Homo sapiens: one gene and its partners. The protein of the gene in region 3 binds, or shares a complex with, the protein of the main gene of each other region. Each region holds a gene or a part of one and is shown on either strand. Other genes may lie near its edges. The genes, in order: CD4, CD8A and LCK.

Region 1 (10,806 bases), on a different chromosome or scaffold from region 3:
GTGCCACTGCACTACAGCCTGGGCGACAGAGTGAGATTTTGTCTCAAAAAAAAAAAAGATAGATAGATAGATAGATAGATAGATAGATAGATAGATAGATAGATAGATAGATGATAGATAGATACAATTTTGTTTAAACCGGGGAAGTAGGAAGAAAAGAGGTCAGGAAGGAGGTTTCTGAAAAAGGAGGAAGGGAGACTAGCCACCAGTGATGGTGAAGTGTTTACAGGTTAGCATGCAGATGGGAGGCATCTAGGGGAAGGCTGCAGTGAGAAGAGTAGAATAGGAGTAGCCTCATACCAAAGAGTGGTTCCCACTGTCCCCCATCCCAGACTGACTGGGTCCTTGGTGAGCAGGGGATGAAAGAGGGGAAGTCTCCATAAACGATATCCCTTCTCTGGGGTCCAAATTCAGCTTACCCTGATAAGATGCCTGGGGAAGACTAGAGGCATTCTTGACCCTTCCCCATATGGTGGCTGTTTTGACTCCCCCAGCTCCATGGTCCTGAGGTATGTGCAGACAGCCACCTCCCTGCCTCCAGCTCCCTGTTCTGCCTCATCTCACCCCAAGGCTCTGCTAAGTGGAGGAGGCTGTGGGTTTCCAGCATGCTTGCTTTGGTGCTTTGGGCTTCCGCTGCCACCCCAGAGATCTGGCCTTTGATTCCCATACTCAGCGTCCCCAGAGGTGTCTTACCCTAGTACGGTAGCATCCTGTATACCAGCACTCCGAGAGAGGCTGGGAGGGCTCTCTGGTCCCTCAAGCCCTGGCACGTCTCTCTCTCTCTTTCTGTCTCTCTCTCTCCCTCCTTGCTTCTCAGCTCACATCTGTGCATTTCTGTATCTATGCTTCCCAGCCCCCAGCTTATGCCCCCAGCCTGCAGCTCCCTGTGTCTGTGTCTGTCTTCCTCTTTGCCTCATATACCAGGCGGCCGTGCTGGCTCTCCCGGGCTCCCCTGGAATGCCCCTTGCCTCTTCTCCTTTTTCAGCTTCCCCTCTCAGGCTGCCACTAAGCTCTAGCTCCTTCCGGTCTGTACACAGTCCTCCTGGCCTTTGGCAGCAATGCAGACCCTGGACAAGCTTTGATCTGTGGGGAGCCTGCCGAGCACGCCTGCAGCCCAGGGTGGATGTGAGGGAGCCGGCTGCAGGGTGGGAGGGACACATGGACAAAGGGAAATGGACAGAGTTCCCCAGAATGCACAGAGCCTCAAGGGAGGAGGGGAGGGAAAGATGTGGGAGAGAGAGACCTGGAGCAGCTTGTTAAAGCAACAGCTATGCACACACAATCCACAATCACACACAAAGCGCAGGGTAGTACAAAAAAAGAGGAAAAGAAGAAATTCTGAGAAGCAAGACAGATGCACAGAGCATAGATCCAAAGTGAGGCAAAGAGAGACTGAGAAAGAGAAGAGACCAAAATGGCAACACACACCACGCACTTTCTCAGAGCCTTGAGGTTCCTGCCGCCCTCACCCCTGGCCCCCAGGGATGGGATGAGGGGCGAGGCTTGGGAGGGTAAGAGGGCCCAGCTCCACCACAGCGAGAGTCTGTGGTCCCACAGGCACTTTTATCTTCTCCCCATAACCCCCAAGCAGCCCACTCAAGCCCAGCCGCGGGATGTGCCCCACCGCGTTCACCCTCTCTACTGCTGACTAGCTTCCTATAAACTTCCTAGAGACTGTGACCCCTCTAAGGAACTCTTGTGGTTGGTGGCTGCAACCTCCGCCATCCTCTTCTTCGCCTCAGACACCCACATCGGGGGAACCGTGCCCACCCTCCTTCCCTCATCCCCTCAAAGGTACAGAACAGAGCTCAAACTCAGAGCCTTGCAAACCCAGACCCCTGCCCACCTACTTCTGATTCCCCACCTTCATCAAAGTTATTTTGAGACAGGGCCTCACTCTCGCCCAGGCTGGAGTGCAGTGGCACAGTCAGGCCTCACTGCAGCCTCCGTCTCCCAGGCTCAAGCAATCCTCCCACCTCAGCTTCCCAAGTAGCTGGAACCACAGGCACACACTACCATGCCCAGCTAACTTTTGTGGGGTTTGTAGAGATGGGGGTTTCACCATGTTGCCCAGGCTGGTCTCAAACTCCCAGGTTCAAGCCATCCTCCTGCCTCGGCCTCTCAAAGGGCTGGGATTACTGGTGTGGGCCACCACGCCCGGCCCATCACAGGTATTTCATTCAACAAACATTTATTGAGTGTCTAAAATGTGCAAGACTGGCCCAGTATGGTGGCTCACGTCTGTAATGCCAGCACTTTGGGAGGCCAAGGCGGGCGGATCATTTGAGGCCAGGAGTTTGAGGCCAGCCTGTCCAACATAGTGAAACCTGGTCTCTACTAAAAATACAAAAAGTAGCCGGGCGTGGTGTTGGGCTCCTGTAATCCCAGCTACTCAAGAGGCTGAGGCAGGAGAATCGCTTGAACCCAGGAGGTGGAGGCTGCAGTGAGTGGAGATCACGTCATTGCACTCCAGCCTGGGCAAGAGAGCGAGACTCCGTCTCAAAAATAATAATAAAAAATAAAACGTGCAAGACAATTGGTCTAGCCAATTGCCCTCAGCACCACCCCGCCATTACGGCCAGGGTCAGAGCCTAGGGCTGCCCCCAAGCTCTGTCTAGCACCAGTGGTGGGAGGAGTTTTTATCTAGATATAGACCTCTCCTATGTAAGTGCTCCCACATTGAAAGAGGGAAATCATCTCCCGAGTGTCTCTAACGCTGTCCTCAGGGGCTCTTTCATCTGACTTTGAGGGCGGCGGCCATTTTGTATCAGCCTACAGCATCTGATACAGCACAAGGAATTATTGGTCAAAATGTGAAGTAGCAGTGACTTCCCCCATCAGGCCCTGCTCTTAGCCTTGCCCCGATAAAAATGTCCACCACAAGAGCAGGGCATTCAGGAAGCACTATCCCACTCAGAGTGAAATCTTTGAATTATTGAGAACAGGGCCTTTCCGTTTTGAGGGATCAGAACGTACCCCAGGAAACCTCTCTCCCAGAAGAAGCCTATGAGGGGAAAGCAGAGGACACTGGGGATAGCACGGCTTCAAGGCCATGAGGTCTCAGGGGCTGGAAAGGTCTGAGGGCGGAAAGGCTGAGATGGCACAGGGCTTCCCTTCAGGAGGGACAGTGAGTCCTCACTCTCCCTCACACCCTGCCAGGCCCAGGAGGGGCTGCACATCCTTCTGTAACTCTCCCGGCCTCATGAGACCCCTACCACCAATTCTTTTCGAATCCGTTTCTTAAATGACATATTTATCTAAAGATATGTATCTGCAACTTTTAGGGCAATTCATACGCAAAAGCTCAGTTTCAACACTTTCTGAGAATTTTAGCTTTCCTATTTCATGAATCATTTTAAAGCTAACTAGAGTAGAAGTGCCTTTAGACATTGTTCAAAAATCTTAAAAGAGCAAAGAAGCAGACAAAAATTTAAAAATACACACAGAAACACAAAAGGTAGTTAAAAGAGACTATTACATAGATCATGCGACTTATGAAATGCTGCAAGTATGATATTTGGTGTCAATTTTTGGAGATTGTCCCGTTAAGGAAAATTGGTTTTGCAAGAATTTTCTCTAGACTAGATTCCACTTCTTTTGCTCTTTTTCTTGTTTTTATGTTTTTCCTCATCATTTCTTTTTTATAGGTTTCCTCCCACCTTATATTTATTTATTCTTTCTAATTTTTTCCCTCCCCTTCTTCACTCTTTTTCTCCTCTTTTCCCCTCTTCCAGTCTTCTCCCCTCAACTGCCCACGACTAGTTGCCTTCCACGCCTTTCCCAGCCTGGGATAGTCTCCAGTCTTCACTCCCTCTCTGATCTTGCTATTTAGGTCACTACTCCTCTAAGGAGCACCCATTGCTCTGGACACTGAGCTGTGCACGCTGGGGCTGCAGAGAGGAGTCTAGCACAGTCTCTGACCTCTGGAAGCTCACAGTTCCAGTGGGAAATCGCTGCTCATGACCAGTTCCAAGAGAAATGCAAGAGAAGGTGGCCAGAGCTGTGGGCAGACAACTGGGCAGAGCACATTCCTGTGCATCTGCCCCACGTTCCCCTCCCTCTCAGCTCCGGGGAAGGAAGCCGAGTCTGACCACCTTACCTCTGGGCTTGCGTCTTTCTTGCCCGCTGCTTCTCAAACAGGCGTATCTGTGTGAGGACTTGGAGCTCTGCAACCAGGAGCCCAGTGGGGAGGGTGCTTTGTTCCTTCTGCAGAGTCGTGCTTAAATGAAGAGAGACAGGAAGCCCGATGGCAAGGCTCCTCCACACCCTAGGCCTGGGCCGGCCCCAAACGTCACCAGCTGGAGCTGGGTTCCCCACCCCCCAGGCTCTCAGGGAACATGTCAAAGTGAAAATGCCAAAGTCAAGGGAAAAAGTTAAGCAGAATCAGGCTTAAATCAGGAGTCAAACTGTCACTGCCACTGTTAAGCGGCAAGAAAAAGATGGCAAGAAAGATTCCATTAGTGGTAGCGCCATGTCTGACCAGGCTGTGGGGAAAGAAGTGGGAGGCAGTTGGGGGCATATGGGAACAGCAGTGGTAAGCCCACAAACAGCTCCTTGCTCTGGGGCCCTGAGGGCATGTGTCCAGTGGGTGCCCCAGGGGTATCTGTGGAGGCTTTATAGGTGGCCCAGTGTGGAAGAGAGGGCGTGGGCTGAGCAGAGAATATCTGAGACACCAGGAGTGACTGTTAACCAGGCTCTGTTCCTCTAGGCGTCTCTGGCCAGGCCTCAGGTGCTTTCCTCTAGCCCGAATCTACCATGAACTCTCTATGTGAGTATCCGTCTGCCCATTGGACATCTCCACTGGGAAGCTCACCGGACATAGCAAACTCAACACACATCCCCAACTATGCATACCACCTGCATACTACCACCCTCCAAACCTGCTTCTCCAGGCTTCTCACTCAGTGAGGGGCTCACCATCCACCAACTTGCCCAAGCAAAATAAATTGGGTGTAATCTTTGACACCCCCTTCACCCAACTTCTCCCACGTATTTATTTACCAGTTCCTGTGGATGTTACCTTCTAAATGGCTCCAAAATCTACCCAAGTCACTCTGCACTACCACTACTGCCACCATGCCAATCCAAGATGCCAATATCATCCCTTGCTCGGACAACAGCTCCTGCCTCCTCACTGGTCGCCATTCTCCATACCACAGCCCAAGTGATCATTTAAAGATGCACATGTGAGTGTGCGTTTTCCAGTCTGAAAAAAGTGGGGCTGGGAGTGGTGGCTCATGCCTATAATCCCAGCATTTTAGGAGGCCGAGGTGGGGGGATCGCTTGAGCCCAGGAAGTTGAGGCTGCAGTGAACCGTGATTGCACCACTGCACTCTAGCCTGAGTGACAGAGTGAGAACCTGTCTTGAAAAGAAGAAAAGAAAAGAAAAGAAAAGAAAACTCTAGTTCAGCTTGCGACTCCAACAATTAACACAAGTACCCCTATTTGACAGCATTGTACTTCATCTGTAGCATATAGTACTGTGTGCTACTTCTCATTTCATGACACACCGTACTCAAGGGTTGAGATTTAATAAAATTAGTATTTACTGCTTCATTAAAGGCATTCTATATATATATATATATATATTTTTTTTTTTTTTTTTTTTTGAGAGGGAGTCTCACTCTGTTGCCCAGGCTAGAGTGCAGTGGCGTGATCTTGGCTCACTGCAACCTCTGCCTCCCGGGTTCAAGCAATTCTCCTGCCTCAGCCTCCCAAGTAGCTGGGGCTACAGGCATGCGCCACAATGCCCAGCTAATTTTTGTATCTTTAGTAGAGATGGGGTTTCACCATGTTGCCCAGGATGGTCTTGATCTCTCTTTTTTTTTTTTTTTTTTTTGAGACAGAGTCTTGCTTTGTCATCCAGGCTGAAGTGCAGCAGCATGATTTCGGCTTACTACAACCTCCGCCTCCTGGATTCAAGCCATTCTCCTGCCTCAGCCTCCCGAGTAGCTGGGATTACAGGCACCCGCCAACATGCCTGGCTAATTTTTGTATTTTTGTAGAGACAGGGTTTCACTCGTTGGCCAGGCTGGTCTTGAACTCCTGACCTCAGGTGATCCTGATCTGCCCGCTTCGGCCTCCCAAAGTGCTGGGATTACAGGCACGAGCCACTGCGCCCGGCCTCATTAAGGGCATTCTTAAGTAAAAGTGGCATTAATTTTTTTTCTTTTTTTACTGTAAGTACCTGGCAGTGAAGAATGCAATGACTATCATATGGTTTGGCACCACTGCCTTCATTTATGCTAAGGCAGCAGTTTTATCCAGATTGTTTTTGCAACATTATTGCAATGTCAACATAGTGACAAAGGAAAATAACATCCTGTATTTTTTTATGAAAATAGCTTGACCTTGAAGATCCCCTGAAAGGGTCTCAGGGACTCCCAAGGGTCTGCAGGCCACACTTCACTCTGAGAACCACTGATCTAGGTAATTTTTATTCATTCTTCAGATCTCAGCTATCGCTTTAGCTGTCCCCAAAGTCTATTTTCTCCTTCTTGGTAATAGAACCCTCAATTTTTAGCTGAGCTCTTAGCTACCCAGATTTAAAATATACTTCCCAGCCTCCCTCACAGCTGGATGTGTCCAAGTGACTCAATTTTGGTTAATAGATAGAAGTGAAAGTATTAGGTGCAACCTCAGAGTTGCTCCTCAAAGTGGGGAAAATGTATCCTCCTCAGGCCTTCTTCCTTCAGACTAGAAAGCAAACACCCTCCCTATTGTTCACAGCCAGTCTGCTTTTCTCATTTACATTACCTGGCAGGCTCTGGTAGGCATTGATGTTTTGAGCCCTGCTCCATTCATTCATGTACGTAGTTAAGCGTGTACCAGCCCAAGGCACTCTGCTAGGTAGCTGGGGATGTGATGTTGAAGAAGACAGATATGGTCACCACTCCAGCTTATGACATAGACACTAAACAACGAACAACTTCATTACAATTCGACAAGCGCTACAAAGGAAAAAGCACAAGGTGCTGGGAGATCTTATCACAAAAGAACCTTCTTTCAACTGGGAGAATTGTCTATCGGTAAGCACTGGGTTCTGCTACAAGCAAAAGAAAACCCAAAATAATAGAGGCTTCAACAAGATTGAAGTTATTTTTCACATGTAGGAAGTGTGGAGGTGGGTGGTGCAGAAGAGAGGGAGCAGCACGCCGTCCTCCAGGGCCAAGATTGGGGCTGTTTATATTTTGTTGCTCTACCATTCTCCTGCACAGGACTTCCTCCCCAGAGTCTCAGAGGATACTCAGGTTCCTCAGTTGAAATCAGTTTTCCTTGTGATAAGATCTCCCAGTCCCCTGTGCTTCTCCCTTCGTAGCAATTTTCCAGTTGCAATGAAGTTATTTGCTGCTTAGTGTCTAGCTCACAGGCCAGAGCGGTGACCGTGTCTGTCTTAGTTAGCACTATGTTCCCAGCACCCTCACAGATGCCTTGGCCCTGGAAGACCCTTAATGCTTGTTTAATATTTTCCTAATATATTAAATTTTATTGATATTAAATTTATTGCGGTAAAATACACGCAACATAAGATTTTCCATTTTAAGCTTTTTTTTTTTTTTTTTCCAAGACGGAGTCTTACTCTGTCCCCCAGGCTGGAGTGCAGTGGCACAATCTAGGTTCACTGCAACCTCCACCTCCTGGGTTCAAGCGATTCTCCAGCCTCAGCCTCCCGAGTAGCTGGGACTACAGGTGCCCGCCACCACGCCTGGCTAATTTTTGTATTTTTAGTAAAGACGGGGTTTCACCATGTTGGCCAGGCTGGTCTCGAATTCCTGACCTCAAGTGATCTGCTCACCTTGGCCTCCCAAAGTGTTGGGATTACAGGTGTGAGTCACCACACCCGGCCATTTTAGGCATTTTTTAATGTACTGCTCTGTGGGACTGAGTACACTCACATGGTTGTGTAACCATCTAGAAATTTTTCATCTTCCCCAAATGAAACTCTGTACCCATTAAATACTGACTCCTCATTCTAACTCCCTGCAACTCCTGGCTATTGAATAATATTTTTTTTTCTTTTTTCTTTTCTTTTTTTTTTGGAAACAGAGTCTTGCTCTGTCGCCGAGGCTCGAGTGCAGTGGTGTGATCTCGGCTCACTGCAACCTCCGCCTCCCAGGTTCAAGCGAATCTCCTGCCTCAGACTCCCGAGTATCTGGGATTACAGGCGTGCGCCACCAAGCCTGGCTAATTTTTGTATTTTTAGTACAGACAGGGTTTCACCATGTTGGCCAGGCTGGTCTCGAACTCCTGACCTCAAGTGATTCTCCTGCCTCTGCCTCCCAAAGTGCTGGGATTATAGGCGTGAGCCACTGCACCAGGCCAAATAATTTTTGAATGGATAAATAGAGAAGTATGGACAAGAGCAGGAGAGCAGGGCTACAAATGTAAATGCTTACAGGAGCCCCCTAGGTAGTGCAAATGAGAAAGGTACACTGGTGGTGACCAAAAGGGAAGGGTAGGGACTGGGGGAAACCAGAGAGTACTTGCCTCAGCTAGTTAAGGGCAGCCATTCCCTGCATAGCTGTCTGAGTTGACCGTAGAGGCTATACTGGCATGTGAGCCTAGAGTTGCCTGCTCTGCCAAAATTTCTAGAGAAGGTGAAAACCAGACATTTATGTAATACCTCCTGATTTTAATATTGGTAACAAATTTTTTCAACTTGTCGTGACACTGGGTAGAGCAAACAGAGCATTCCAAGGGCTGGCTCTAGCTTTGGGCCCACCGGTTTGCAGATTCCAGACCCGATGGACGGTGTGAGAACTTGCAGCTCTGTGAGTCTGTGGCCTGGAAGTCAACGGTCCTGAGAACCTGGCTCTCTCTCTGGGGTTTCCAAACAGGAAAAGAAAAAAGGAAGAGAGAGGGTGAGTTTATAGTAAACATTTGGCATTGTTGTGTGCTTTATGTGGTTGTATCTTTTATTTAATCCTCATGAGAGTGATAAGACATAGGTATTATTGTCCAGGCCATACAGATGAGGAAACTGAGGCTTGAAGAGTTTTTTGTTTTCTTAGACAAGGTCTCGTTCTGTCACCCAGGCTGCAGTGCAGTGGCACGGTCACAGCTCACTGCAGCCTCAACCTCCAGGGCTCAATCTATCCTCCCGCCTTAGCCTCTCAAGTAGCTGGAACTACAGGCATGTGCCACTGTACCCAGCTAAATTTTTTTTTCCCCTAGAGATGGGGTTTTGCTATGCTTCCCAGGCTGATCTCAAACTCCTAGGTTCAAGCAATCCACCCACCTCAGCCTCCCAAAGTGCTGGGATTACAGGCATGAGTCACACTGTGCCTAGCCGAAGAGTTTCAGTTGTCAAAGGTCTCAGAGCTAGTAACCACAGCTGGTGGAACCGGGATTTGAATTCACCCGCTTGGACCCCAGTTTCTGGGTGGTCCCCCTCATTGCACTGCCTCTCCTCTGCATTAAGAAGGTCCAGGACCAGGCATGGTGGCTCGTGCCTGTAATCCCAGCACTTTGGGAGGCCGAGGCGGGCGGATTGTGATGTCAGGAGATCCAGACCATCCCGGCTAACACGGTGAAACCCCATCTCTACTAAAAATACAAAAACAAAAACAAAAACAAACAAACCAAAAAAAGAAGGTCCAGGCGGGGCGTGGTGCCGAGTGCCTGTAGTCTCAGCTACTCAGGAGGCTGAAGCAAGAGGATGCCTTGAGCCCAGGAGTTCTGGGCTGTAGTGCACTATGCAGATCAGGTGTCTGCACTGAGTTCAGCTTCAGCGTGGTGACCTCCCGGGAGTGGGGAACCACCAGATTGCCTGAGGAGGGGTGAGCCAGCCCAGGCCGGACACACAATGGGTCACAATTTCCATGCTACCCATGCTAATCAGCAGTGGGATCGGGCCTGTAAATAGCCACTGCGCACCAGCCTGGGCAACATAACGAGAACCCACCTCTAAAAAAAAAATAAAAAATAAAAAAAGAAGAAGAAAGGCCAGGATGACAGCTAAGAGAAGTCTTCTCCCTTAGCAGTGGAGGGAGGTATGAGGCCCACTGCCTCACCTGGAGCTTCTGAGGCTCAGCAGTGCCATGGTCCTCACATCTCTAGAGTGGTTTTCCATTTTCCAAGCACTTTCACATTCATTTGTACATGCCAGACCTTTTTGGTAGGTGTTGCTGTTACTATCCTTACTTTACAGAAGAAGAAATGGAAGTCAAGCTGTCTGCCCCCATCACATGTCTGAAAGCATGGAACAGGGGGAGTTCCAGAGGCTATTTTTGCTGCATGTATCCTGCCTCTCTAGGCTGTAGAACGGGAGGAGGCCAAGCCAGGGGAAGGAGTGATGGGGAAGAGAGAGAAGCCGGTGTCAGAGGCTACAGACAGAGTGCTGGAGACTGGATGATCTGAGAGGCCTAGGGCAGCCAGGGTTGCAGGAAAGTTGAAAGCCCCAGGTGCAACTCTGCGGTGGCCTCCTTACCAGAAGTATCTTTGGCAGCACTGACGCCCTCTGCAAAGGGGGCTGGGGGCAGGGTTTGAGGATGGGGAGCAGGGGAGGGGTCTTTGGGGCTGTTCTCTGGGAAGCAAAGTCTAGGAGCATCGATGCCATCTCTACCCCATCCACATTTCCCCTGGCTCCAGGACCACTTTTTGCCACTCTCAGAGGGTGGTTCTGGGCCTCCCCTACCCCACGGGAAGTTTGAGTAGGCACGTTTCAGAGCTCAGCCCGGGCTCAGACAGCTGACACCTGCAGCCCCTTGGAGAAACTGTCAGCCACAGAGTGGAGCAGATAGAACCGACCCCACCCCAAAGCAATTCCCTTCAAAGGAAGAACCCCACCCTGGGGTGGGCCTGTGC
Region 2 (10,687 bases), on a different chromosome or scaffold from region 3:
TGTGTGTGTGTGTGATCATGGGCTGAAACTGGATGAGGCAGTCACTTGAGCTGCCAGATAGCCAATTGTCCCTGCATCTCGTTCCCCTTTTTTCTACTCCAGTCCTTGGCAGCAAACCAAGGTCCTACATGACACAGAGAAGTTAGCAACCAAAGCCATTATTATTTTGGTTCAGCTGATAAAAGATTGGCTCTCCCTCAAAAAACTAGACCAGCCAAGTAGGAAAAAAAATTGTTTTCTTAAGAAAACAACAAAACCCAGATGGAATAATCAGAATAAAGAGGAGGTCAGGTCCTACGAGGAGCTAGGATAAATTGGGGGAATCCCTCAGGTTTTTTTTTTTTTTTTTTGGAAGTGCCAGGTCAAATAAGATGGAGATTTACTGGAGTCACACTGCTGTTGGCACCCGCCTAACCCGGGCCTCCTTTTTCTCAAAGACACAGGCCAGATGCCAGCCTTGGCCTCTCTTTGCTCAGGAACTGGCTGACTCCCTGCCCCAGGATTTCACGGCCATGACCTCTCTCTGGGAAAAGTTCCCACTATTTGCTGCTGGGGAAACCAGGACCCCACCCCAGGGCTGGCCAAGGTGAGCAGGCTGAGTTCAAAAGAGACTCACCGGGGACATTTGCAAACACGTCTTCGGTTCCCTGGATAAGGAAAAAGAAGGGAAAAAGTGAGTGCCCCTATCCATCAATAGTCCCCAAAGACAGTGTATTTTTTGTTGTTGCTGTTGTTGTTGCTGCTGTTTTTTGGTTTTACAAAAAATCATTTCAGAACGATCATGGGCTGAAATTGGATGAGGCAAATAGGGAATTGCCTCTACGAATTCTCCTTCCTTTCCCCTATTTCTTTGAGGATTATAACTCTTGAGAGCCGGGTAAGGGCTTCTTATCCATCCTTCGTCTCAAGCATCAATTAAAAAAAATTGCAACTACAGACGCGGGCGAAAGCGGGGAGCCTGCAGACCTGATCCGGCACCTCTCTTGCATGGGACCCAAAGCAGGGTGGGCGGTTCGCCGAAGAGGGCCAAGGACGAACCTCAAACTGATGGTGGTTTTGACTAACCCTCCTGGGCACTTGACTCGGCCACAGCGGCCCCCTCCCGGCGGGCGTTTGTCATGTGTCCAGACATGTGCGCGCGCGCTGCGGGCTTCGTCGACGGAACACACCCGCTGCAGCGGCTCTGGGAACGCGGCTTTGTCTCCCAAAACCTCTCCGAGAGCGCAAGGAGCGGGAAGGGCTTTCTCGCATTCTATCTCCCAGAAAGAAGTGCCTGTACCTGCGGGGCAGCTCGGGAGTCCCAGAAAACTCAACCCCAAGCTCCCCCCTCGCAAGGTCCGCCTGGAGCTAGCAGAGCCAAGGGCAGGAGCGGGGCCGACTCCTTCCCGCCGCGATTCCTCGGGACTTACTGTGGTTGCAGTAAAGGGTGATAACCAGTGACAGGAGAAGGACCCCACAAGTCCCGGCCAAGGGCGCCCAGATGTAGATATCACAGGCGAAGTCCAGCCCCCTCGTGTGCACTGACGACACCAAAGACGCCGACATTTAGGAGAGGGCCCGGGACCTCCCAACCGCCCCACCGTCCCGGGAACGTCTCTCCGCCTCAGATCTCGGTTTCCCACCACTTGGACAGCCCTTGACTCTACCTACAGTATCAGGGCTGTCCCTGGCATGGGCTCTCCCCGCGGTGCGTGCCGCCCCCGCCCCGGGCCCCCGCACGCCTCACCTGCGCCCCCCGCCGCTGGCCGGCACGCCTCTGGGCGCAGGGACAGGGGCTGCGACGCGATGGTGGGCGCCGGTGTTGGTGGTCGCGGCGCTGGCGTCGTGGTGGGCTTCGCTGCAAGAGCAACAGAGCGTGGTTGGGGGCCAGGCTGGGGTTATGGAGGCGCCCCAGCCCCGGCCTCGCGCACCTTTCCCCACGGGGACGCCTCCCCCCGGTTTTCCTGGGAGAAGGGATAGCAGAGGAGACAGGATGGGGACCCCGGGATGCGCGCGGACCCCTGTGCTCGGGCCTCGGCTCAGCCCAGCGCACCCGGCGCCCAGAGCCGGAGCGCAGGAGCCAGCTCCCCTGCACCTGGCCTCTCTCCCGGGCTGAACCAGCAACCCTGGAGCGCGGGTTGATTGCTGTCCGCATTTTACCCACGAGCAAACGGAGGCGCAGATAATTTAAGTCATTTGCCCAGAATCACACAAGAATCCGAACTCGAGTCCAGATCGGCCGGACGTAAAAAGCCATCCCCAGTCCCTACTCAGCCTCGCGTTAGCCTCAGTTTGCTGTGTCTGTGAAATGGGAACAGTATCTAAGTCGCTTCCAGGTGCGCTAAGAGGCTTGAAAGCAGGGCCCAGGTGTGGAAAACAGGTTGAGGTGAACCCCAAGCCCCACGCGGAGAGGTGCCGCAACCCGGCGCGCGGACCTGGCAGGAAGACCGGCACGAAGTGGCTGAAGTACATGATGGAGTTGCTCAGGGCCGAGCAGAAATAGTAGCCCTCGTTCTCTCGGCGGAAGTCGCTCAGGGTGAGGACGAAGGTGTCCCCCAACCTCTTGCCCGAGAACCGCTGGGTGTCCAGCCCCTCGGCCGCCTTGGGCTTGTTTTGGGAGAGGTATAGGAGGAAGGTGGGACTGGCGGCGGCGCCGCGCGGCTGGAAGAGCCACGAGCAGCCCGACGTCGGGTTGGACAGCAGCACCTGGCACTTCAGCTCCACTGTCTCGCCCAGGTTCCAGGTCCGATCCAGCGGCGACACCCGGAACTGGCTCGGCCTGGCGGCGTCTGCAGGCGGCAAGCAGCGAGGCTGAGCCCGCAGTCCCGCGCCCCCCGCCCCCCGCCCGCCCCATCCCCTGCCTTCCCGGGCGTCTCAAACTCACGGAGCAGCAAGGCCAGCGGCAGGAGCAAGGCGGTCACTGGTAAGGCCATGACGCGCTCCCCAGGACGCTGCTTGGCTCGAAGCTCGGGCGCGAGGGGAGGCGCGCGGGAGCCGGTGGGGCGCCGAGGGGGGAAAGTTGCGCCCTTCGGCCGGCCCGGAGCCTGATTTCGCATTTGGAGGATGTGATGTCACCCGAAGCCCCCGCCGAGGAGAGTCACCCTCCTTTTCGCGGTTGTCGCCTTCCAGCCCGGCGAGGAGGCTGGGGCCCGTGAATAGGGCCGTCGAGGCAGCCTGGCCAGGCAACTGGGGGCAGCTGAAAACTGCGGGTTTGGGGATGAGGAAAAGGGCTTGGAAATAGTCCTTGGAAATGGTTGTCTTGTGAGAGTGACAGAGTGGGTGAAGGGAGACCAAAGATTTCAAGAAGTGAGGGCGAGAGTAGGCAGCAAAGGAGGGGAGTGTCCCTTCCTTTGCCTTCACTAAAGGCGTCTCTTGTACTGTCACCTTGGGACTTTTTATTGGCAAAATGGGCACTGAGGGCTGAAAAGGAAGAGGAACTAGCGACCTGCCCGCTTCTGAGGAACTCGCTAGAGCAGCCCCAGTTTTCACCGAGGAAGGACCCTCTCCCTTCCCCCAGGAGATTTCCATGAGAGCGGCAGCAGCCGAAGCTTTGGGTGTCGGTGTCAGTGCGCTGCTGACCTCATTCTTCCGGCCTTTCATCCAGCGGCTAAACTCACCACACAGCCTCATCTCTTCTTGGAGCCATTGCAACAGCCTTCAATTCACACCAGTCTCTCTCCTGATCAGTCCTCCAGCCACGTTGTTATAAAAATTATTATTCTCACAAAGGGGATCTGACAGCGTCACTGCTGCAGCCTCCCATGGCCTGCATTGCTGGATGGAAATTCAACCCCCAGCTTGGTTGACCAGCCCTTGGGTGCTGGCTCCTCCCAGCCTCCGCACAGCCCCCTGCCCTGCCTTTCCCATACACCTGCAGCTGCAGCTTCACAGGCTTGAAGTCATTCAACCCCTGCGCTCTGTGCTTTCACGCCCTTGCACTTGCGGTCCCTCGGCCTGGAATGCTGGTCTGTTTAAGCCCTGGAGGCAGCTCCTGTGCTGTCTCATTTGGACCTCATTTCTTTCACCCCCAGCTCTGGGTGCTCTGCAGGGAGGTGTGGGTGATGTGGGTGAATGCTTGGGTAGAGGCGGTTTTCTCTTTTCTGTCCCTAACACATGTGTGTCCCCTTCCTTTTTGTTTCTTTAAAAAATAAAATAAAATAAAAAAGACTGGAGTCTCGCTGTTTTGCTCAGGCTGGCCTTGGGACTCCTGAGCTCCAGTGATCCTCCCACCCCAGCCCCCTGAGTAGCTGGGACTACAGGCTCATCTTTCCTTTTTGACTGTTGCTGTCCTGAAACCTTCCAGCTCCAGTGGCATGCCCTCTTCCCATTTCTTCAGGGTTTCTGAGTCTTTCCACTTTGAATCCCATAGTGGCTGCACCTCACATTGCTACTGCTTGATCCTAGAGACAAGACACCTGGCATTCTGTGTTCCATGTGTCTGCCCCACCCATTAGTTCTGCTGGGCGAGGACCATGCCGAGACTTCATGATGTGTCCTCCATCCCCAGAAACACAGCATGGGCTGAGCTGTGCTTGTTGAACTGCATTCTCCTTGTCCTTGTGAAGTACAAACTTAAGTGTTGGATGGGTTCTTTGTCGTTGTTGCTATTTTTTTTTTTGAGATGGGGTCTGGCTGTGTTGCCCAGGCTGGAGTGCAGTGTGGCACCACCTCGGCTCACTGCAGCCTCTACCTCCCAGGCTCAAGTGATCCTTCCACCTCAGCCTCCCAAGTAGCTGGGACCACAGGAGCACACCACCATGCCCAGCTAATTTTTTGTATTTTTGGTAGAGATGGGGTTTCACCATGTTGCCCAGGCTGGTCTCCAATGCCCGAGGTCAGGCGCTTTGCCCCGCCTTGGCCTCCAAAGTGTTGAGATTACAGGTGTGAGCCACCATATCAGGGCCTGGATGGGCTTTTTTTTTTTTTTTTAATTATTTTGATTTCAGTACCTCCTTCCAGCTCCCTCAAAGCATCCAAGATGCTTATTCTAGCATGGAACATGTAACATTTTATATTCAGAAATTTTTAAAAATGTCTTTTAAGTGACAACAGTGCAATATATTCTTGTACGAAAACAAACACAAAGTTCCCTGTCTCAACTCTCCTCACTGTCACCTGCTCCCCACAGAAAACCACTGTTACAGTTGAATGTGTCCCTTAGATATTATCTGTACATAAACAGATGTTTATACATCATCTTAGACACATGGGATTGTATGAGATAAATATTTTTTTGCAACCTATCTTGTTTCACAGTAGAAGGAGAGCGTTCAGCAGATGAAGATCCACCCCATTCTTATAAATGGGTGCATTATATATGGGTGTTCCATAATTTAATTCTGCTGTTAGTGGACATTTAGGCGATTTCTCATTATTGCAACACTAGCAAGGCTGTGGTAGATATAATGTATCTGTATCACTGAGGGCTTGCACCAGTACCTGCAGCTTTTTCAAATGGGAGATGAGGGAGTTGGGGAAGAAAACACCTTTACAATGATGGTTATAACTGGCCTATCGATGTATGCATGTGTGTGTGTGTGTGCATGGTATGAGGGTCCCTCGCTGTGTAGACACAGTGCTGTCCCTCAACTCACATGAATGAGGGAGACAAGGAAGCAATCAAGTCCAGACAGGCCACCAACACATCAATTCTTGCTGTAGATGGTAGTTTGCCATTTTGCTCAGCACCACCAGCACTGTATCAGGAGTGTCAAATGGCCCTGCTGGCCAAAGGCTACAATCAACAGGGTGGTAAGGAAGATGGCTAGACACGAAACTGCACTTGCCCAGTGGTGGAAGCACTGAGGGGGCCAGAGTCAACCTCCACCTATTTGGATCTTGAGAATCAGGCCCCTGAGTGTGATGATGGCCAGATTTGGGGGTGTACTGCTTTAAAATAGACTAGTTCCATCTTAGTCTCACGGAAATCAGCTTGGGGGCCTTCTAGCCCTGCAGCTCAGAAAAGTGTCAGCCAGTGGGGTGGCAGCCCCTTTGTACAGAGCACCATGGGGGTTGGGGTGGGGAGGATAAGGCAACATGTCAAACCCATCAAGGAGGCTTTGTGACCCCAGTGATATTTTTTGCAGAACGTGGTGGATTTTCGATGTGACCACAATGACATCCGCCTTGCAGTGGCAGAACAGATGCAATTGCACAAGTTCTGGAGAAACTTTCTGTAGACCAGGTGTGCAGAGGGCTGGGTTGGGCCTGTCCATCACTGCCAGGTAAGTTCCCAAACCCCACACTGTAGCACTGACTTGGGATGGCATGAAGAAATGTGAATGACTGCACTCCTTTAAGCAAGCCCCTTATTTAAAAAAATATCCAGAAGTAGATAGAGTAAGATAGTAACCAGTTTCTATGCTGATTTAAACTGGTCCATGGAAATGGAAAACTTTAATGTAGATTAAAGACATATTCAAAATGCAAAACCGGGCAGAGCAGTGGTAGGAAATCCATCAGGGTTCTGTGCCACTGCTCCTAAGACATGAACTGCAGGGACAACTTGGAATCATGGCTGGGAAATTGCCTGCTGTGTCCCCATCGCCAATTCAGGTCTATGGAGATGTTACTGTTCTTGGAAGGAGTTAGCTTGTCCAGGGCTAGAAACTCTAGAGTTATCAGGGCTTGTTTTATCTTAATTGGAAATACCAATCAATTTGGCCTCACTTCTGTCACCTTTCTTTTCCTCCACCCCGAGTTCCCCAAGTTCATCTAGCTGCTGTCCTTCTTTCCTGGACTTTTGCAATGGCCTCTTAACTGGCCAACCCCATTTCTGCTCTGGTCCCTTCTAGAGAAAATCTCATCATGCCAACCCCCTGCTTCAACCTGAAAGGACTTCCTGGTGTCCCTAGTAGAATGTCGGGGATCCCTAATGTTGCCTGTGAGGCCCTGCACACTTGGTTTCATAGTCTCTGTCCTCTTGTCTGTCACCTTCTTCACTCCTCCTAGGTTCCGCATCTCTCATTTCTCAAGCGGACCCTAGTCCTTTCCACTTCAGAGCCATTAAACATGCTATTCCCTCAGCCAAGAATGTTCTCACCTCTGCTCTCTGCTTACCAAACTCCTCTCCCTTAAGACCCAGCTCAAGCATCTCCTTCCTGTGGGGTTTAGCTCCTTCCCCCTCCCACTCCCAGACAGTACAGACCACATCCTTCTCTTCTCTGTGTCACCCGGACCTTGGGTATCTGCAGACTGGAGCACAATGGTTTGTTTGCCTGTCCAGCTTGACAACCAAACCCTTGGTCCCTTGAGGAAGGAGCCTTGTCCCTCTCATGTTTACACCAGGGTGCCAAACAGAGGGCTTGGCACACACTTGAGTGGCACACACTCAAGAAATTCTTGCTCAGTAAAAGCTAAAGGAAGGTAGAAGTAGGGTACAGCAGACCAGAGGAGGCTTAGATAGTTCATTCCAAGTAAGAGTGGTCAGGAAAGGCTTCACATATAGTTGGGTTTGAAGATAAAGGAAGAATTAGGAGAGAGGTTGTTTAGAATGAGGCATTTGATATGTCTGATCAAGATCAGCTGATACCATGCTTTAACATATAGCAATGGTATAGTTAAAAACAAAAGAAGAGGAGGAAGGGGAGAAGGCAGATGTACTCAAAAGCAAGATAAACGTCTTCAAGGATGTAGTTGCAGGACAATGGCTGGAATCAGGGGCTGGCTTGCTGGGATCTGTTCTTAGCAAACCATTCTTGGGCCTGGGTCTTGAGGGTCTGTTCTTAGTGTAGAGGCACCAAGAGTTTGACTCCTTCAGCTAACAGAGTTTCACAGTGCTTTGCCTATAGAGGAAGGCTGGAGCCAGGCTCTCTGCTTGAAACAGGGATTTGGATCTGATTTTCTCTTGATTGAAAGAGAGCCCACAGCCACCCATGTAAGGCCTAGTTCTGACTGTGGGCCCTGGAAAGTCAGAGGCTACTTTAAAAAACTCAGGAAAAGAGAGAGTAAAGAGAGGAAGAGATTTTCAAAAATTTCTATTCAAGATAACCCTGCACACACACTCGAAATTCAAAGTATACATAAAAAAGACTCAACAAGTGGAATGTGAATTCACTTCCAAAAAGAGGCAAATTATTGAACAATTTGAAAAATGTTTAAAACAAAGAGAACAACAAATGTAGAAAATGCAGAAATTAAAGAAGAACAGTTGAAGATGATAAATACTGAGCATACTGGAAATGAACACTCTACATATTAAACAAGGATATACTCTAGGTTGGACATAGTTGAAGGGATAATTAATGAATTGGAAGCTAGCATTGAGAAATTCATAGAGAATGCAACACAGGGAGATGAAGACAGAAGCAGTTTGAAAAAGCTGTTGAGATGTATATTAGCATGGTGAAGTGTTTAATAGGATTTCAGAAAGGGGAGAACAAAGGGAATGTGGAGAAGAAATATGGGAAGAAAGCATGGCTGAAAATTTTTCACAATTAAAGACAAACATTCTCAGATCAAAAATACTCTTAGTGCCAAGTATAAAAACATATACATCTTTGCACATATCAAGGTGAATTATAAACATCAAGAGTAAAGAGAAGAGGGCATCCCAGGAAGCTAGGATGTTTGAAATATAATTGGGAGAATCCTTGTTGCAGTTTGGATTGGGCAGAGAGGGTAAGAAGCTGAACTGTAATGGGGAAAAATATACACATTTTGGTTACACCTTGCATTGACTCTCTGTCATCCCCTCCCTTGGTGCTGACACATGCTTACTGTAAAACTGATCCAATGATCCCATAGAGTTGATGTTTGTGGTTTCTTTGAATAAACATATAAATTGATCCTTGCCTTCTTAAAACCTGAGAAAGTTACATTTGTCTTATCTGAGTTCCTTTCTAGGGAAACCAACTATCAGGCCTCCCAGATGGTAGCAATGAGCTGAAACTCACCAGATCACTTATTATGAACAATAAGACGTCAGACTCTTCACCTGGTATGATGGCCTAACTAACCTCCTGTTTCCTGTTGTCCAACTCCTTTTCCTTACTCCTCCCAACTTCCTGTTTTCCCACACATGATTACATGTCTTCCCTGCTATATAAACCCCTTAATTTTAGTCAGGTCAGAGGGATGGATTTGAGACTGATCTCCTATCTCCTTGGCTGCAGCACCTGACTAAATTCTTCTTCCTTGGCAATACTTGTTGTCTCAGTGATTGGCTTTCTGTGAGGTGAGCAGAAGGACCTAGATGGATCCCCCGGTGTTTCGGTAACAAAATTGTTTTGGATCTTTAATCTCAGTAACACTGAAACAGAAGCGTTCTGAATGCAACTGGAGAGCCAGGATTTGAGTTCAGAAGAGGGGTCAGGGCTGGGGATGTAGCCTTGGGAAGGAGGTGATAAGTTGTGAGAGTGGGTGTCATTGCAAAGGGAGGTGGTGTGGAAAGAACATACAGAAGAGTATATGGAACCTTCAGGGAAGGCTCGTATTGAAGAGCAGGAAATAAAACATTGGCAAGGAATCCAGGTAGTGCAGGAAATTCAGAATGGGGCTTGAGAAGGTGGAAGAACTTCACAGGGGAGGTTTGGGCTATAAGAGAAGCACAGAGAGGACATCAAAGCCTGTGGCAGGTAGAGATTGTAAGCTCATGTCTGCCCCTGACCCACATGAGGATGTCCCACATGTTTGCCATTGGTGGATGATAAGATGAGGAGGACTCACAGGAGAAAGGCCAACAAGGGAGGGTAGGGGCAGCATGGGGACTTGTGGAGGGCAATGTCAGATGAAGTGATGTTGACTTCTGAACTTCATTCATTATTCACTCATTTAAATATTTCTGCTATTCACTTTTTTAAAAAAAAGTTTTGAAAACATTTTAACATAGAACAATATGTCAAATAATATAAAATGCCCACTCTTTATAAGTGTTAGCATTTTGTCGCATTTCCTTCACATGAACATTACAGATAAAACTGTACCCTCCCAAGTACCACCCCACCCGCCTTCTCATGAAAAGCTAAATTTGGAGTTTTGTTCATTAATTATGACAGAAAGATGGTAAGTTTTTTAATTTTTAATCTGTTAACCTTTCCTATGGAGCTGAGAGAGAAGGATGCCGAATGTCCAATGAGTGTGGATTTGTCTATTTCTCCTTTTAATTCAGTTCATATTTTGTCTCCTATATTTTGAAGCTTTGTTATTAGGTGCATACACATTTAGAATTGTGCCTTCTGGATGAATTCACTCTTTTATCATTATGAAATGTTCGTCTTTACCTCTGCCTCTGGTAATACTTTGTTGTGAAGTCTACCTTTTATTCATAAGGAACAGAGCTTTCTTTCTTTTTTTTTTTTTTGAGATGGAGTTTCCCTCTTGTTGCTCAGGTTGGAGTGCAATGGCACGATGTTGGCTCACCGCAACCTCCACCTCCCAGGTTCAAGCTATTCTCCTGCCTCAGCCTCCCGAGTAGCTGGGATTACAGGCATGCACCACCACGTCCGGCTAATTTTGTATTTTTAGTAGAGACAGGGTTTCTCCATGTTGGTCAGGCTGGTCTCGAACTCCCAACCTCAGGTGATCCACCTGCCTCAGCCTCCCAAAGTGCTGGGATTACAGGCATGAGCCACTGTGCCCGGCCAGAAACACAACTTTCTTATGCTTCCCGTTTGCATAATGTATCTTTTCCTTTTTCTTTTTTTTTTTTGAGGCAGAGTCTAGCTCTGTTGCCCAGGCTGCAGTGCAGTGGTGCGATCTCATCTCACTG
Region 3 (10,308 bases):
AACCTCCACATCCTGGGTTCAAGCAATTTCTCCTGTTTGAGCCTCCCAAGTAGCTGAGATTACAGGCATGCACCACCATGCCCGCTAATTTTTATTATTTTTAGTAGAGACAGGGTTTCACCATGTTGGCCAGGTTGGTCTCGAACTCCCAACCTCAAGTGGCCTGCCCACCTCCGCTTCCCAAAGTGCTGGGATGACAGGCATGAGTCACCAGACCTGGCCTGTGGCCTTTTTATAATCATCACAAAATGTTCTGTGGACCACGGGCAGCCTTAAGTTTGACTGAGAACATTACATGCCCTAGTCAGAGGCAGCCTCGAATCTATGAAATTCTTACTCGTGACCTTGGATTCCTAAATTGGGAGAAAAGAATGTCCTGTTTCATTCACCCCAGAATCTGCCCTCATTGCTGGTTCTGGGAGCCCTGGGGATTCCTTTCATCTGTTTTTTTTTTTTTTTTTTTCTCCCTTCCTCCACTTCTTTCTTTCAGACAATGAGAAATTTATATTAAGCTTTAATTTTGATTTTCTTTTTACTGACCTCATTTATTAACCTGGTTAGATCATGTTGGCTACTCAGCAATCTTTATCAAACTAAGACCAGAAGGAGTCTGGGCATGGTGACTCACGCCTGTAATCCCAGCACTTTGGGAGGCTGAGGCAGTAGGACTCCTTGAGCCCAGGAGTTCGAGAGCAGCCTGACCAACATGGTGAAACCCCGTCTCTACTAAAAATACAAAAATTAGCCAGGTGTACTAGGCGCATGCTTGTAATCCCAGCTACTCAGGAGGCTGAGGCAGGAGAATCGCTTGAACCCAGGAGACAGAGGTTGCAGTGAGCCGAGATCGCGCCATTGCACTCAAGCCTGGGTGACAGAACTAGACTCCATCAAAAAAAAAAAAAAGAAAAGAAAAAGAGATTCTCCTGCCACAGCCTCCCAAGTAGCTGGGATTATAGGCACGCACCACCACACCCAGCTGATTTTTGTATTTTTAGCAGAGATGGGGTTTCACCATGTTGGCCAGGCTGGTCTCAAAATCCAGTCCTCAAGTGATTCACCTGCCTCGGCTTCCCAAAGTGCTGGGATTACAGGTGTGAGCCACGGCACCCGACCATGCTCAGCTATATAATTAGTGGCCGGCGTCCGGCTACCGGGGGCCGTGGCTCACACCTGTAACCCCAGCACTTTGGGAGGCCGAGGCAGGTGAATCACTTGAGGTCTGGATTTTGAGACCAGCCTGGCCAACATGGTGAAACCCCATCTCTACTAAAAATACAAAGATTATCTGGGTGTGGTGGCACGTGACTGTAGTCCCAGCTACTTGAGCTACTTGGGAGGCTGAGGCAGGAGAATCTCTTTTTTTTTTTTTTTTTTTTTTTCTGACAGAGTCTAGTTCTGTTGCCCAGGCTGGAGTGCAATGGTGTGATCTCGGTTCACTGCAACCTCTGCCTCCCAGGTTCAAGCGATTCTCCTGCCTCAGCCTCCGGAGTAGCTGGGATTGGAGGCATGCGCCTAGTATGCCCGGCTAATTTTTGTATTTTTAGTAGAGACGGGGTTTCACCATGTTGGTCAGGCTGGTCTTAAACTCCTGACCTCATGATCTGCCCACCTCGGCCTCCAAAGTGCTGAGATTACAGGTGTAAGCCACCACACCTGGCCCTTTTTTTTTTTTTTTTTTTGAGACAGAGGACAGAGTCTCACTGTGTCGCCCAGGCTAGGGAGCAGTGGCACGATCTCGGCTCACTGCAACCTCCAACTCCCAGGTTCAAGTGATTATCCTGCCTCAGCCTCCCAAGTAGCTGGGATTACAGTCACGTTCCACCAGGCCCAGCTAATTTTTGTATTTTTAGTAGAGACGGGGTTTCACTATGTTGGCTAGGCTGGTCTTGAACTCCTGACTTCGTGATCCGCCCACCTCGGCCTCCCAAAGTGCTGGGATTACAGGCTTGAGCCACCACCATGCCCGGCCAGCAGGAGAATCTCTTGAACTGGGGAAGCGGAGGTTGCAGTGAGTGGACATCACGCCACTGCACTCCAGCCTGGTCCATGGAGTGAGACTCTGTCTCAAAAAAAAAAAAAAAAAAAAAAAAATTAGCCAAGCATGATGGCGTGATGGCATTTGCCTGTAGTCCTAGCTACCCAGGAGGCTGAAGTGGGAGGATCACTGAGCCCAGGAAGTCAAGGCTGCAGTGAGCCGTGATTATACCACTGCACACCAGTCTGGGCGACAGGGGACCCTGTCTCAAAAAAAGAAAAAATTAATTAAATTAAATTAAAAAAAATTTTTAAGTTAACATTTTTTCTCCTCCAACTATAGACCTATTGATTTATTGAACATTTTGTCCAAAATGTGTGCCAGCTTCGTGGCTGAGTTTCTTGGGCCAATGCTTTACATCAAGAACAGGCAGGTGGTCGGATGCAATGGCTCACGCCAGTAATCTCAACATTTTGGAAGGCCAAAGTGGAAGGATCACTCGAGGCCAGGAGTTCAAGACCAACCTGGGCAACATGGTGAGAACTCATCTCTACAAAAAATACAAAAATTAACCAGGTGTGGTGGTGCACGCCTGTAGTCCTAGCTACTCAGGAGGTTAAGGTAGGAGGATCGCTGAGCCCAGGAGGTTGAGGTTGCAGTGAGCCAATATCATACCACTGTACTCTAGCCTGGGGGAAAGAGCAAGAACCTCTCTCAAACAAAACAAAACAAACAAAGCAACACAAAAAACAGCAGACAAGACTATACTTCCTTTAGGGATCATTTCTTTAGTTCAGTTTCTCTGAACATGTAGAGCACAAAAAGTAAAAAAGAAAAAAGAACAAGCAGACTATTCTACTGCAGACCATTGTTGTACTCTGGACCACCTCATGGCAAAATCTGTCAGAAATCATTTAGAATAGCCAGGGCTGGAGGCTCACGCCTGTAATCCTAGGGCCGAGATGGGAAAATCACTTGAGCTCAGAAGTTCAAGACCAGCCTGGGCAACATAGTGAGACTTTGTCTCTGTAAAAATAAAAATAAAAGGCCAGGCGCAGTGGTTCACACCTGTAACCCCAACACTTTGGGAGGCTGAGGTGGGTGGATCATGAGGTCAAGAGATCGAGACCATTCTGGCCAACATGGCGAAACCTCATCTCTACTAAAAATACAAAAAATTAGCTGAACGTGGTGGTGCACACCTGTAGTCCCAGCTACTCGGAAGGCTGAGGCAGGAGAATTGCTTAAACCCGGGACTGCACTCCAGCGTGGCGACAGAGCAAGACTCTGTCTCAAAAATAAAATAAAATAAAATAAAAATAAAAATAAAATTAAAAAAAAATGAATCATTTAAAACATTTTCTTCGCCTTTGCCCCGACCCAGACTTGATTAATGACAAAGCTGCCCATGTTCAATAAAGAGCCTTAGCTATTCATGCCCACATAGAACCCTCATGACAATATCAAGCAATATCAAGAATCAGGGCTAGCAGGCATGGCAAATAATTTCTTTCTTTATTTTATTTTATTTTGAGACAGGGTCTTGCCCTCTTGCTCTCTTGCTCTCTTGTGCCACTGGAGTGCAGTGGCAAAATCACAGCTCACTGAAGCCTCGACCTCCCGGGCTCAAGCAATCCTCCCACCTCAGCCTCCTGAGTAACTGGGACAACAGGCATGTGCCACCACGCCTGGCTATTATTATTATCATTATTATTATTATTATTATTTTTATTTTTTTAGATGAAGTCTCACTCTATCGCCCAGGCTGGAGTGCAGTGGTGCAATCTCGGCTCACTGCAACCTCTGCCTCCCAGGTTCAAGCAATTATCCTACCTCAGCCTCCCGAGGAGCTGGGACTACAGGCGTGTGCCACCACACCTGGCTAATGTTTGTATTTTTAGTAGAGATGGGGTTTCACCATGTTGGCCAGGGTAGTCTAGAACTCTTGGCCTCAAGTGATCTGCCTGCATTGGCCTCCCAAAGTGTGGGATTACAGGTGTGGCATGAGCCACCGCACCCAGCCTCCAGCTATTTTTTTTTTCTTTTTCTTTTTCTTTTTTTTTTTTTACCTGAGAAGCTGTGAATGAGAGGGCCCGGGTAATTTTTGTATTTTTTTAATTTTTGTAGAGACAGGGTTTTGCCATGTTGCTCAGGCTAGTCTCAAACTCCTGAGCTTAAGCAATCCACTGCCTCAGCCCCTTAAAGTGCTGGGATTACAGGCATGGGCTACCGTGCCCCGTCAGTAATTAATTTCTAGTGGGTAAATCAGGGATGTGTCCTGGGCTACCTCCTTTTTCATATTTGTTTAAATACATAATACTTTTTTTTTTTTTGAGATGGTATCTCACTCTGTGGCCCAGACTGGAGTGCAGTGACACAATCATGGCTCACTGCAGCCTCGACCTCCCATAGCTCAGGTGATCCTCCTACCTCAGCCTCCTGAGTAGCTGGCACTATGGGTGGGCAACACCACGCCTGGATAATTTTTGTATTTTTAGTAGGGACAGGGTCTCACCACGTCACACAGGCTGGGTTTTTTTTTTTTTTTTTTTTGAGACGGAGTCTCGCACTGTTGCCCAGGCTGGAGTGCAGTGACGTGATCTCAGCTCACTGCAACCTCCACCTCCCAGGTTCAAGCGATTCTCCTGCCTCAGCCTCCCGAGTAGCTGGGATTACAGGCACCCGCCACCATGCCTAGCTAATTTTTTGTATTTTTAGTAGAGACGTGTTTTTTAGTAGAAACTAATTTTAGTTTCACTATGTTGGTCAGGCTGGTCTCGAACTTCTGATGTTGTGATCCACCTGCCTCCGCCTCCCAAAGTGCTGGGATTACAGGTGTGAGCCACTGCGCCCAGCCTGGTTTTTTTTTTTTTTTTTAAAGAGATGGAGTCTCACATCTCACTCTGTCACCCAGGCTGGAGTAGTACAGCACATGATTGTAGCTCACTGCAACCTGAAACTTCTGGCCTCAAGTAATCCTCCCACCTCAGCCTCCCGAATAGCTGGGATTACAGGCAGGAGCCACTGCACCTGGCTTTAATTCCGCTCTCTCTCTTTTTTTTTTTTTTCCTTTAGAGATGGGATCTCACTCTGTTGCCCAGGCTGGAGTGCGGTGGCATGATCATGGCTCACTGCAGCCTCAACCACCTGGGCTCAAGTGATCCTCCCACCTCAGCCTCCTGAGTAGCTGGGACCACAGGTACACACCACCAAGCCCAGTTAATTTTTTTATTTTTTGTAGAGACGGGGTCTGCCTATGTTCCCCAGGCTGGTCTTGAGCTCCTGGGCTCAAGCAGTCCCCTTGCTTTGGCCTCCCAAAATGCTGTGATTATAGGTGCAAGCCACCACACCTGGCTTAATACCTTTTTTGAATGAACTCTGTAGCCTCTCGACACAGAGAGAACAAAAAAAAAAGCATTATTTTGGATGCAAACAAAATGGATTTATTTTCACAAATTGGGAGTGTCTTGAACATAGAACTGATTCTGCTAGTCAAGTATCGCTATAAATAAGGGATATAGAGCAATTATTCTAATTGGTATTTTAGTAGAAGTCCCCCAACCAGTAACGTGAATATACCTGATAATCCCTTTTACTGAGTCCGCTCCCTTGGGTACTTTGGTGTGCTTTTTGTATCATGGACAGTTTTATTAGGATGGAGCCTTACTTACAGCTTGGCAATCCACACTGCTTTATAAACGTTTCTGGGAGTCTGGCAGCTCTGGAAGCTCAGTTCACCATGTCCATGCCATGGCAACCCAAATTCAATCCAGGTTCTCCCAATCACTTGCTGGCAGAAGGGCACCAGGCGTGGTGGTTCACACCTATAATCCCAGCACTTTGGGAGGCTAAGGTGGGCAGACAGATACGTGAGCCCAGGAGTTTGAGACCAGCCTGGGCAACATGGCAAAACCCCGTCGGTACAAAAAAAATACAAAAATTAGCCGGACTTTGTGTCCCATGCTTGTGGTCCCAGCTACTTGGGAGGCTGAGGTGAGAGGATCACCTGAGATTGGGGAGGTCAAGGCTACAGTTAGCCAAGATTGGGCCACTACGCTCCAGCCTAGGCGACAGAGCAAGACCTTGTCTCAAAAAAACAAAAAAAACAAAAAAAAAAAAAACAAGACTTACTGGCAGAAGGTTGTTGGGCAGCTTACTAAACCTCTGCACTTCCCTCAGTTCCTTCATCAGCAAAATGATGACAAAAATAAGACTTGCATCTAAGGCTGGCTGTGGTGAGCATTATACGTGATATATAGATGATCTCATATAATAAAATGCTTAACATAGTGCTTGCTACATAGACACTGGCCTTAAACATCTTTCAGGCTAAAATGATTGATCATTTTCATTTTCCTTCATGATTTTTGGCACTTCCACGGGCTACCTTTTCACGTTTGATATATGTACCTAAAATGGAAACTTTACTACCATAAATGGAAAACCAGAATCATGAGACATAAATAGAAGTGAAACAACAGCGCACACTAAAATAAACACATAAATTAACATTCGTAAATGGTCATCCATTATCCCCTAAAATCACTTACACACCTGAGTGGTGTACAGGTCATATTTTAGGAAATGCCACACTGCAAGAGAGAACTTTGGGCTTAGGCTGCTGCTTGTGGATTAAAGGAGCTGGCCTATTGACAAAAATGTAATGGGTGAGGTAGGACGATTGCTTGAGACCATACATAGTGTGAGTGCAGCTTGGGCAAAATAGTGAGATCTTATCTCCACACACTTTTTTTTTTTAAGACAGAGTTTTGCTCTTGTTGCCCAGGCTGGAGTGCAATGGCACGATCTCGGTTCACTGCAACCTCCACTTCCCGAGTTCAAGCAATTCTCCTGTCTCAGCCTCCCAAGTAACTGGGATTACAGGCGCCTGCCACCACGCCTGGCTAATTTGTTGTATTTTTAGTAGAGACAGGGTTTCACCATGTTGGCCAGGCTGGTTTCAAACTCCTGACCTCAGATGATGCACCCACCTCACCCTCCCAAAGTGTTGGGAGTTTAGTAGAAACCCCATTTCTACTAAAAATACAAAAGTTAGCCGGGCTTGGTGGCATGTGCCTATAGTCCCAGCTACTTGGGAAGCTGAGGCAGGAGAATTGCTTGAACCCGGAGACAGAGGTTGCAGTGAGCTGAGATAGTGCCACTGCACTCCAGCCTGGGTGACAGAGCAAGACTCCATCTATAAATAACTAAATAAATAAATAAATAAATTGTATTGTTATTATTATGTTTTAATAGAGACGGGGTGTTGCTATGTTGCCCAGGCTAGTCTTGAATGCCTAGTCTCAAGAGATCTTCCTGCCTCAGCCTCCCAAAGTATTGGGATTATAGGCATGAGCCACTGTGCCTGGCCAAGAATTTTTTTATAATTAGCTGGGCATGGTGGTACACATCTGTAGTCCTAGGCTACTCAGGAAGCTGAGGTGGGAGAACCACTCAAGCCCAGGTGTGTGAAGTTACAGTGAGCTATGATCACACCATGTGCCCCAGCCGGGGCAACAGACTGAGACACTGTCTCAAAAAAAAAAAAAAAAAAAATAAATTTAATGGGTACCTCCTATGTGCCAGATTCTGACCTAGAGCTGAGGATGCAGAAGTAAGCAGACAGAGAGCGTCCCATGCATTTGGCCCTGCCCTCTGTGACAGAGGTGGGTGCCCCTCTGGTGGGTCACTTCATTTTCACAGGAGGCTATAAGGCTTGTAGTTAGCTCACTGATCAATAATATCTGTGACTGCCGACAACATGGCCGCACATGACAGCAACACTTGCCAGGAAGTAACATTTCAAAATCACCACCGTTAACCATTTACCAAGCTAACGTTTAGTGAAACAGTTAAAAGGATGAGGTATTTTGTATTGACATGTATTGACACGGAAAGACATCCCGCATACACCATGGCAAGCAAGTTGCAGAACAGAATGCAGAGTATATGCCTATTTGCATTGACATATGTATACAGGGGATTCTTTTAAATAAGCTCTGTGCTAAGCCTTTATTTGCATTATTTCATGTAATTCTCATAATAATCCTATGAAGTGCTATTATTATCCCCATTTTACAGATGCAAAGACTGAGGCCCAAACCAGGTAAAATGATTTGTCTGAGGCCTCATAACAAACAAATGAGCAGTGGAGTTGTGAAGTGAGTCCCGGTCTGCCAGCCTGCAGAGACTAGACTTAACCTCCATGTTTTTCAGCAGCCATACATGGGAAAATCTGGAAGGACACACACCAAATTTTTCACGATGGGCATATCCCAGAAGTGGGATTGGAGGAGGCTGCATTTCTTGTATTTCTTTATATGCCTCTTACTGTTTGAGTTTTAAATTTTATTTTTTTTTTAAATAATTAAATAGAGATGGGGTCTGCCTATGTTGCCCAGGCAGGTCTCAAACTCCTGGGCCCATGTGATCCTCCCATCACGGCCCCCCAAAGTGCTAGGATTACAGGTGCGAGCCACTGTGCCTGGCCTGTTTGAGTGTTTTTAAAACAGCAATGTGCTAATTTTGTAATTAGAAACAAAAACAGCCGGGCGAGGTGGCTCATGCCTGTAATCCCAGCACTTTGGGAGGCTGAGGCAGGCGGATCACCTGAGATCGGGAGTTCAAGATCAGCCTGACCAACATGGAGAAACCCCATCTCTACTAAAAACACAAAATTAGCCGGGCGTGGTGGTCCATGCCTGTAATCCCAGCTACTCGGGAGGCTGAGGCAGCAGAATCACTTGAACCAGGGAGACGGAGGTTGCAGTGAGCCAAGCTCGCACCACTGCACTCCATCCTGGGCAACAAGAGTAAAACTCTGTCTCAAAAAAACAAAAAACAAACAAACCAAAAAAACCCCACAAAACTTAGCCAGACATGGTGGCACACGCCTGTAATCCCAGTTACTGGGGAGGCTAAGGCAGGAGAATCACTGGAACCTGGGAGGTGGAGGTTTACAGACATGCACCACCATGCCTGGCTAATTTTTTGTATTTTTAGTGGAGATGGGGATTCACCATGATGGCCAGGCTGGTTTCGAACTCCTGACCTCAGGTGATCCACCTGCTTTGGCCTCCCAAAGTGCTGGGATTACAGGCGTGAGCCACTGCACTCTGCCGTGTTTATTTTTTAGAGACAGAATCTAGCTGTGTCACCCAGGCCAGAGTGCAGTGGAGCGATCACAGCTCACTGCAGCCTCAAACCCCTAGCTCCAGATACTTTAAAATCAACACTGAGGTTGATTGTGAGAGGCCCCATTACTGGATGGTACCTTGGTCCCACCTGCTCCTCACCACCTACCCCACCCCACCCCACTGAGAATTACTTTCACTGAATTGAGCTTGGCCTTGAAGCCATCAGCTCGTGGGTGTGTGCATGGAGTTATAGGATGTAGTCTGTGTTTTATGTGTAGCCCCTGCCCTGCCTCTGAACACATCTGTACACGTAGATTTTCCCATGATATGTATGGTGTTTTGGCTTGTGTGTGTGTGTGTGTGTGTGTGTCTGTGTGTGGCTGCGTGAGAGACCCTCTTCTAAAGTAGATCCCATGGCCCCGCTCAGAGTCCAGCCTGCCTGAGTTCTCACACTCCTCACACTGTATACAGGAAACAGGCTGATTTGCAAAGCCACACCACAAGTGTGAGGGAATGGGTGGTTCACTGGCCCACCAAGGTGCTGAGTGGGCATAATTTGGGTGTGGACAGCCCTCCCTTTGGTGCATCATTTGCAGGGGGAGGGAGTGCCCCACCTCCCTTAAACACCTACTATGTGCTGGCCAGGTGCGGTGGCTCATGCCTGTAATCCCAGCACTTTGGGGGGCCGAGGTGGGCGGATCACGAGGTCAGGAGATCGAAACCATCCTGGCCAATATAGTGAAACTCCATCTCTACTAAAAATGCAAAAATTAGCTGGGCATGGTGGCGCGCCTGTTAATCCTAGCACTTGGGAGGCTGAGGCAGGAGAATCACTTGAACCCGGGAGGCATTTTTGTTTGAGATGGGGTTTCGCTCTGTTGCCTAGGCTGGAGTGCAATGACTCGATCTCTGCTCATTACAACCTGTGCATCCCGGGTTCAAGCAATTCTGCCTCAGCCCCCTGAGTAGCTAGGATTACAGGCACCTGCCACCACGCTCGGCTAATTTTGCATTTTTAACGAAGACAGGGTTTCACCATGTCGGCCAGCCTGGTCTCAAGCTCCTGGCCTCAAATGATCTGCCCGCCTCAGCCTCCCAAAGTGCTGGGATTACAGGTGTGAGCCACCGTGCCCAGCTTGATTATTGCCTCTTTACAGATAAGTAAACTGAAGCTCAGAGAGAGAGATGAAGCCACTT

Evidence for each region.
Region 1: the proteins of LCK (region 3) and CD4 are in contact, whole or in part, in an NMR structure (PDB 1Q68), measured with the Homo sapiens proteins. Residues at the interface, in NP_001036236.1 of Homo sapiens: Glu15, Ile17, Val19, Cys20, Asn22, Cys23, Tyr25, Pro26, Ile27, Val28; in NP_000607.1 of Homo sapiens: Ala429, Arg431, Ile435, Leu438, Leu439, Lys443, Thr444, Cys445, Gln446, Cys447.
Region 2: the proteins of LCK (region 3) and CD8A are in contact, whole or in part, in an NMR structure (PDB 1Q69), measured with the Homo sapiens proteins. Residues at the interface, in NP_001036236.1 of Homo sapiens: Cys20, Asn22, Cys23, Tyr25, Pro26, Ile27, Val28; in NP_001139345.1 of Homo sapiens: Arg212, Arg213, Val214, Cys215, Lys216, Cys217.

The regions. Positions count from the first base shown.
Region 1 is NC_000012.12:6,782,956-6,793,761, reverse strand, and holds the start of CD4 (T-cell surface glycoprotein CD4 isoform 1 precursor), read right to left. Parts: upstream 4,235-10,806; 5' UTR 4,100-4,234; intron 1-4,099. UniProt on the Homo sapiens protein: Integral membrane glycoprotein that plays an essential role in the immune response and serves multiple functions in responses against both external and internal offenses.
Region 2 is NC_000002.12:86,787,914-86,798,600, forward strand, and holds the start of CD8A (T-cell surface glycoprotein CD8 alpha chain isoform 1 precursor), read right to left. Parts: upstream 3,001-10,687; 5' UTR 2,913-3,000; coding exon 2,864-2,912; intron 2,769-2,863; coding exon 2,415-2,768; intron 1,838-2,414; coding exon 1,727-1,837; intron 1,521-1,726; coding exon 1,410-1,520; intron 648-1,409; coding exon 617-647; intron 1-616. UniProt on the Homo sapiens protein: Integral membrane glycoprotein that plays an essential role in the immune response and serves multiple functions in responses against both external and internal offenses. In T-cells, functions primarily as a coreceptor for MHC class I molecule:peptide complex.
Region 3 is NC_000001.11:32,253,024-32,263,331, reverse strand, and holds part of LCK (tyrosine-protein kinase Lck), read right to left. Parts: intron 1-10,308. UniProt on the Homo sapiens protein: Non-receptor tyrosine-protein kinase that plays an essential role in the selection and maturation of developing T-cells in the thymus and in the function of mature T-cells. Plays a key role in T-cell antigen receptor (TCR)-linked signal transduction pathways.